Linked DNA regions of Homo sapiens: all the other regions are linked to region 2. The links come from fine-mapping of genetic effects on gene expression. A gene starts in region 2. Each other region holds a variant in brackets. All regions are shown on one strand. Distances are between the middles of the regions. Region 1 overlaps FBXO31 (F-box protein 31). Region 2 holds the start of FBXO31 (F-box protein 31). Region 3 overlaps FBXO31 (F-box protein 31).

Region 1 (2,500 bases), 38 kb before region 2:
GAGAGCTGGGACCCATGAGACTGCCAGCTCCAGCAACCAAGGAGAGAATTCCATCATTTCTGTGGCTCACGAGCCTGGGTCAAGCGTGAGCTGGTGCTGTTCTCTCACAGACTCCACTTTCCCCAATTATCCACTGCTTTTTGTTTTTTGGGGTTTTTTTTTTTACTCTATTACTCACTGCCAGTAAGTAAAACAATTACCCTTCCTCCACTAAAAGAAAGGAAAGCAATCTGCCCACCCTGTGAGCTGCCGGGCTGGTCTCTCAGAGGAAACATCCTAAAAGCAAGGCTGGAGCACGCGACGCCCAACACAACAAACGCAGAGCGGGTTTCTCCACAGCGGCTCCCAGCAGATGAAAACCCCACCTGGGGGCAAAACCCATCCCTGCCCCAAACCCCACCTCCGGCAGCGCCCATCCCTTCCCCAAACCCCACCTGGGGGCAGAGCCCATCCCTGCCCCAAACCCCACCTGGGGGCAGAGCCCATCCCTGCCCCGAACCCCACCTGGGGGCAGAGCCCATCCCTGCCCCGAACCCCACCTGAGGAACAAAGCCCAGAGCCACAGAGGAGCCATCTGCCCAGGGGCCATGCATGCCAGGCCTGGAAGAACCTGTGCAGAGGCCACGGGGAGACAGACACACCCGCCCTCGCTGGGCTCAGCCCCTGGTCCCACAAAAGGGAGCGGAGCACAATCCCAACACCAGCACCGGATTTTCAACACAGCAAGAACGATGGCAACAGTGACACCTCAGGGGCCAGCTGCCTGCCCAGAGCTCAACAAAGTCAGGGCGGGGCTTTCCGGAAAGTTCAAGAGGCTCCAGCAGGAGGGTGCGGGGAGGGCGGGAGGCAGGGTGGGAGGGAGGGAGGGGAAGAGGGTGGGAGGGCGGACCGGAAGCCATGCAGACTCCATGCAGACACTGGCACCACGCAGAGCCCGCAGAGCACCACCTCCTCACCCCACAGGGACACCTGCAAATACCAAGAAAAGTCAGACAACTTCACTGTGTTGAATGAGCAGCTACTTTTCAACATAAATTGGCAGGTGACC[G/A]AGAAACACAGAAACTAAAACTACAAGCAGACATCTGCTCCTGGCCCTGGCCCCAGAGCTCATATCAAACCTGCCCTCCTGCTGAGACCAGCCACGAAGACTGAACACTCTCTCCTAATTCCAGGAGAAAGAAAACAAGAAAAAGAAAAAAAGACTGAACACATCAGAGAGCAATGAAGGTAGCCCAGTGACGAGGACCCAAGGCCCTGAAGAGAAGGGACAGGCTGAGAGGCGAGGGGCAGGGCCTTCTCCCCCCTTCCTGAGGCCACTGACCACTGGCTGGGGAGGAAGGCCCATGTCTGGCACCTGCAGGCTGGAGAGGCACACACGGAGACCAGGTCTACACAGGAGCCAGGACTACCGCCGCCAAACGCCAAAGATGGCAACCAGAGAACACAGCCCCATGCTGCACACAGGCAGTTGCACGAGGCACCTGCGGAATCCTGAGTGAGGGGTGGGAGGTGGAGGAGGGAAGCAGAGTGGCTGCTGAGAGGAGAAGGGGCCAAGCGAAGCGTGACTCACAAAGCCAGGAAGAGAAAAGGAGGAATCAGGGCCTGGGGATAGAGTCACGGACGGCCTCCGGCTGGGCCCTACAGAGGGTTGTGTCCTGGGAAGGAGAGAGACCCGGAATGAGAACGGGACGCTTCCCCAAGCCTGAGACGCGCGCATACCCCGGGCCTGCGCAGAGCAGGTGCCCTGACTCCACTTTGCCCGCAGGCCGGGGCCAGGGCCTCTTGAGGAGACCAGGCCACGGCACCCAGCAAGTGCCCAGGCGCACAGTGAGGGGTGGGGGGCATCCAACACGCCTGGAGATCAGGAGAAAAGGCGGGGGCTAGACTCGAAAGAAACTTTCACTACTGTACCCAAAAAGATTAACAAAGAGAAGGAAAACTTCACCGAAAAACGGGAATTTAATAAAAAAGAAAGCCAGACTTCCATCTCCAGCCATGATCAAGTACCCAGGACTAGACAGGCACTGCCATGGCAGACCCAACGAACAGGAAAGAAATGTCCTCACGGGTCCTCAGACCCCAACGGCAAGCAGGCTGCCGGGAGAAGGGAAACGGAGACGACTCTGCCACCAGCCTGGACTTCCGCCTGCAACGTTCTAGCACTTTCTAGCAGGGGCCAGCCACCTGCCCAGAGCTCAACAAAGTCAGAGCAGGGCTTTCCGTTCGAGAGGCTCCAGTAGGAGGGCACAGGGGGCGGGAGGCAGGGTGGTCAGAGCGGGTCCACAGCAGAACCCAAGGAAACAGACGTCAGAGTGCACCATGGCTGGAACATGGGGGGCAAAGACCAGGAACGGAAGGACCTGGCTGAGGGCGGGCTCCAGACCCCGCCAACATGTGCGCGATGGGCCTCAGCGTCCAGGAAGCAAAGGCCCTCACAAGCCACCCCCTCAGACCAGAGAGTCCAAGGACGGGCCACAAGGCCGAAGTGTTGCTCTAAGCA
Region 2 (2,500 bases):
TACGCCCCCACCATCAGGAGCCCCCGACACTGGGCTTCCCCTACTCCCGTAATTTTTTTTGTTGCTGTTGTTTGAGACCAAGTCGCACTCTGTCGCCTAGGGTGGAGTGCAATGGCCCAGATGTTGGCTCAGTGCAACCTCCGCCTCCCGGGTTCAAGCCATTCTTCTGCCTCACCCTCCCGAGTAGCTGGGATTACAGGCGCCCGCTACCACGCCCGGCTAATTTTTGTATTTTTGTAAGTAGAGACGGGGTTTTACCATCTTCACCAGGCTGGTCTCGAACTCCTGACCTCAGGTGACCCGCCCGCCTCGGCCTCCCTAAGTGCTGAGATTACAGGCGTGAAACCGCGCCCGGCCTGCTCCCATTTCTTCAAGTTCACCTCGTCTCTGGTCAGGGCCAGCGGGGCACCCTCGGCTCGCCTTCAAGACAGGGGCAGAGGAGGCGGCCCCCAGGCGTCAGCTTAGGCCCCGCGCAGACCTCGAGGGATCCCAGCCCCAGCTCCCGGCACGGCCTCGGCCCCGTGGTGTCCCGTGCCCCGCGTCAGGGCCTCTTCGATGCCTCCCTGACGCCCTCAACCCCTCCCTACCCCGTCTGCCTCTCTTGGACCCCTCGGACCCTCCCTAACCGCCTCAAATACCTCCCTGGCCCCCTCAACGTGGTGTCACCGCGGCCGCTCCCCACCCACACCCAAAACACCACATCGCCGGGCCCCGCGCCCAACTGGTGGCCCCCGGCCGGGGCCACCGCCCCCGCCACTCCCAGCTCCGAGGCCTCCACCTGGCAGGGACCCCCCGCCCCTCCCGGCCCCGCCACCCCCGCGCGCTCACCCTCACGGCAACGCCTCCTCCAGATGGTGTCGGTGTGGAGGATGCGCCGGAACTTCGTGCAGACCTGGGCCAAGCTGGGTAGGTCCGTGCCCGGCAGCGACGCGAAGATCTCCACCAGCAGCTCGGGCGGCAGCTCCAGCAGCGAGCAGCGCGGGGGCGGCGGCGAGGGGCCCGCGCACAAGCCGCCCCCGACCCCGGCGCTAGCCTCGATGCGCTCCTCCTCGGGGTCTGTGTCCGGCTCGCTGTCGGCCGCCGCCGTCTCGGCCGGGCCCCGGCGCTGCTGGCGGCGCCGACATCCGCGCGACGGGCCCACGCCGCAAAGGCGAGCACACACCGCCATGCCGCCCAGTGACGGCCACTGCTGCCGCCTGTGCGCACGCTCCAGCGCGGCCCCGCCCCGCCAGCGCCGAGCCACGCCCCCGCCGCAGAGCTCGCCACGCCCCCTGGAGAGCCTAGCCCCGCCCCTACGTAGAGCTCCGCCCCGGCCGCGCCACCCCCTCCCCGCGGGGCGGCGACCTCAGAGACCCCGCACTGCTGCCCTCCCCTCCAGCGTGAGGGCGCCGCCCGTGACGGGCATGAGAAAAGAAAGTGGTGATGCCGAGTGCAAAACGTTAGACTGCCCCGTGTGAGGCTCGAACTCACGACCTTCAGATTATGAGACTGACGCGCTGCCTACTGCGCTAACGAGGCTGCTCGGCGACCACTTCGCGCCGCGGCTTTTGTGGAGATAGGGGTCGCCCCTCGCGCCCGTGCGTCCCGCTTCCGGCGCCCGAAACTGTGCCGCGCCGGCCGGTGAGTAGAAAGATGCGCCTTACAGCCTCCAAATACAGAGGCAGCAGCCAGAACCCCAAAGGGCGCCTAGAAGCCCTTTTGTCCATTGAAACAACGCGCGTTCCATCGTCTCCGCCTTATGGTAACCAAAAGGCCCGAGCTGCGGAGCTCTGCAGGGACCTTCGGGGATCCCGAGCTCCCTGCGGAAGCCCCGGGGAGGGCTTGGAGGGGCGGCGGCCGGCGCGGCCCAAGAGATCCGGGGATGCGCGCCCGGTCTGGAAAGGGAGGCCCTGCCATGCGGCGCCGCCCAAAGGGCGCCTGTTCCTGCAGCTGCTGGGAGCCGCGCACGCCTGCTCCAGCTGGGCTCCGCCGAGGCCGCTGAGCGGGGTCGTCTCCCAGGTCCGCGGGTGGTGACCGCGAAGGCGTCCTCTCACCTGAGCAGCCGCGCACGTCGCCGTGGGCTCGCCTCGGACCCCATCTCTTGGAGGCCCAGGCGGGAGTATCAATCGAGGCCAGGAGCTCGAGACCGGCCTGGGCAATACAGCGAGACCCTGTCTACAAAACAAAATTTTAGAAAGAGAAGCTGAGACGGGAGGATCGCTTGATCCCAGGAGGCCGAGGCTGTAGTGACCCGTGATGGTGCCACTGCACTTCAGCCTGGGCAACACAGCGTGACCCTGTCTCCAAAACAAACAAAAAACAAAAATAGCCACAAATGGCTGGGCGCGGTGGCTCACGTCTGTAATCCCAGCACTTTGGGAGGCGGAGAAGGGTGCATCACCTGAGGTCAGGAGTTTGAGACCCGCCTGACCAACATGGTGAAACCCTGTCTCTTCAAACAAACAAACAAACAAACCACACAGGCCAGGCGCAGTGGCTCACGCCTGTAATTCTAGCACTT
Region 3 (2,500 bases), 43 kb before region 2:
CTCTGCCCTACCTGGGACAGTGGCACCCTCACCCTGTCAACTCCCGGAGGGGGAGCTCAGAAGCGGGACGAGCCGAGGGAGTATGTCGGATGGGGGTGTGGACATCACACAAACGGCAGCACCCCATACACTGACCGTAAGCGTGCTGCTATTCCAATTGCAAGAAGAGACAGCAAGGGGATGTTTCTGGGAAATAGCTGCTTCTAGAGTTCACACAGCAAATAAACAAGATGAGCCGGGAACATTCCAAAATAGAAGAGGAATACAGGCAATTAAAATACAGTGATAGGCCAGTGCAATGGCTCACAGCTATAATCCCAACACTTTGGGAGGCTGAGGTAGGAGGATCACTTGAGCCCAGCCTGGGCAACACAGTGAGACCCTATCTCTAAGCCATAAATAAAATAAAACATAGCGATAAAACTACAAGAATTCGGCCGGGCGCGGTGGCTCGCGCCTGTAATCCCAGCACTTTGGGAGGCCGAGGTGGGCGGATCACCTGAGGTCAGGAGTTCGAGACCAACCTGGCCAACATGGGGAAAACCTGTCTCCGCTAAAAATATAAAAATTAGGCAGGCATGGTGGCAGGCGCCTGTAATACCAGCTACTTGGGAGTGAGGCTGAGGCAGGAGAATCACCTGAACCCAGGAGGCGGAGGTTGCAGTGAGCCAAGATCATACCACTGTACTCCAGTGTGGGGGACAGGGCGAGACTACATCTCAAAAACAAACAAAAACTATAAGAATGAGAATAGTGTGGTACTGACATGTGGACAGACATATGGATCAGAGTATCAAGTCCAGAAATGAACCAAGTATACAGGGTAACCTAGGACAAAAGCAGCGCTACAAATTGATGTAGGAAGTGTGGTTATCACGCATCCAGTGTGGAGATAACAGATCAGGTCTGCACAGAACCAAGGCTGGGGCTAAGCCTTACATTTCACATCAGAATAGATCCAACGGAACCAGACACAGACACAAGAGAAAAATAAAAGCATGAGCTCATTTGTAAACATA[T/C]GTGCTTCAGGGAGAGATCTCAGGATGGCACTAAACTGAGAGTCTTTTAAAGAAAGATGGATACATCTGCTTATGTAAAAATTAAAAATACGGCTGGGCGTGGTGGCTCATGCCTGTAGCCCCAGCACTTTGGGAGGCCAAGGCGGTAAGATCACTCGAGCCAGGAGTTTGAGACCTGCCTGGGCAACAAAGTGAGACACCCTCTCTCTTAAAAATTAACATTAAAAATAAAAAATTCCATGGATGGAAAACACACCATAAGAGAAATCCAAAGACAAAAAAAAGGAATAAGAAAAAAACCTGGCAACTCCTATCTGGAAGGGCTTCGATTTCCTAATAGTTAACAAGCTCCTACAAACCCACTTGAAACCCGCCAACACCAAACAGAAACAGAGGCACAGGCTATGACCAGACAGTTCATGAAACAGTTCATAAAACCACAGAGAGCTCCTGATCCCAAGACACTAGGCTGGTCTCACTCAGAATAAGGGAAACATAAACTCCCCCCATCAAGATTCCAGCAATACCTTCCCTCTCACCCTCACTCCTGGGTGTTTCTCTCATTTCCACAAGGAGCACATGTTGTTATATTTACAATCAGGAAAAACACTACTCCAGTTCAAAATCAGTGAGCCCACACACAGAAGTAGGCTTACAGAAACTTTTCCTAATCCCAAAGTATATAGTACCAGAAATGTAATATGGTTTTCTTTTTTAAGGGCTCAACAGCTGAGGAGTTTCTATTCTTGAAAAATCTGTTGACATTTTTCACTTAAATGTGAACCATAAGGCCAGGAGCAGTGGCTCACACCTGTAATCCCGGCACTTTGGGAGGCCGAGATGGGTGGATCGCCTGAGGTCAGGAGTTCGAGACCAGCCTGGCCAACATGGTGAAACCCCATCTCTACTAAAAATACAAAAATTAGCCAGGCATGGTGGCAGGTGCCTCTAAGCCCAGCTCCTCAGGAGGCTGAGGCAGTAGAACTGCCTGAACCGGGAAGGCGGAAGTTGCAGTGAGCCAAGATCACGTCACTGCACTCCAGCCTGGGCAACAGAGCGAGACTCCGTCTCAAAAAAAAAAAAAAAAAAAAAAAAAATTGAACCACAGCAATCACACACATACGTTGTGTTTCTGTATATAAAATCAAATCTAAAATAACAGCATAATTAAAACATTTCCGTTACTGATCATCTTCACATGCCATCTATTCAAGAAAACAGGAACGTCACTTACTTGCAAAGAATTCCGAGAAACAGGACATTTGGTTCATCTCAACCTTCTCTGCAGTCCTCTGGCTGATGGGGAAACCACCACAACTCAAACTAGCTAAGAAAAGCACACCCTGGCCGCGCGCGATGGCTCACACCTGCAATCCCAGCACTTTGGGAGGTCAAGGTGGGAAGACGGCTTGAGCCCAGGAGTTTGTGACCAGCCTGGGCAACATGGCATAACCCCGTAGCATGGTAGCATGCCTGGCTAA

The links.
Region 1: its variant is fine-mapped to the expression of FBXO31 in whole blood (TOPMed, PIP above 0.99).
Region 3: its variant is fine-mapped to the expression of FBXO31 in whole blood (TOPMed, PIP above 0.99).

What each region holds. Positions count from the first base shown.
Region 1 is chr16:87,344,489-87,346,988 of GRCh38, forward strand. All of the region lies in intron 3 of FBXO31 (F-box protein 31), which reads right to left. Among named protein-coding and RNA genes, the nearest start is that of C16orf95-DT, 28 kb to the left of the region's middle. RefSeq lists enhancers at 1,657-2,212, 2,213-2,500. The variant G/A (reference allele first, on the strand shown) is at 1,049.
Region 2 is chr16:87,382,577-87,385,076 of GRCh38, forward strand. It overlaps FBXO31 (F-box protein 31), which reads right to left and starts at 1,200. Exons shown (of 9, transcript NM_024735.5): 1 at 829-1,200. The coding sequence starts at 1,168. TRM-CAT6-1 (tRNA-Met (anticodon CAT) 6-1) reads right to left here and starts at 1,518; the gene lies at 1,446-1,518. LOC124903747 (a long non-coding RNA gene) reads left to right here and starts at 1,357. Exons shown (of 2, transcript XR_007065168.1): 1 at 1,357-1,620. RefSeq lists silencers at 556-795, 936-1,595 and enhancers at 1,003-1,656, 1,657-2,308.
Region 3 is chr16:87,339,566-87,342,065 of GRCh38, forward strand. All of the region lies in intron 5 of FBXO31 (F-box protein 31), which reads right to left. Among named protein-coding and RNA genes, the nearest start is that of C16orf95-DT, 23 kb to the left of the region's middle. The variant T/C (reference allele first, on the strand shown) is at 1,020.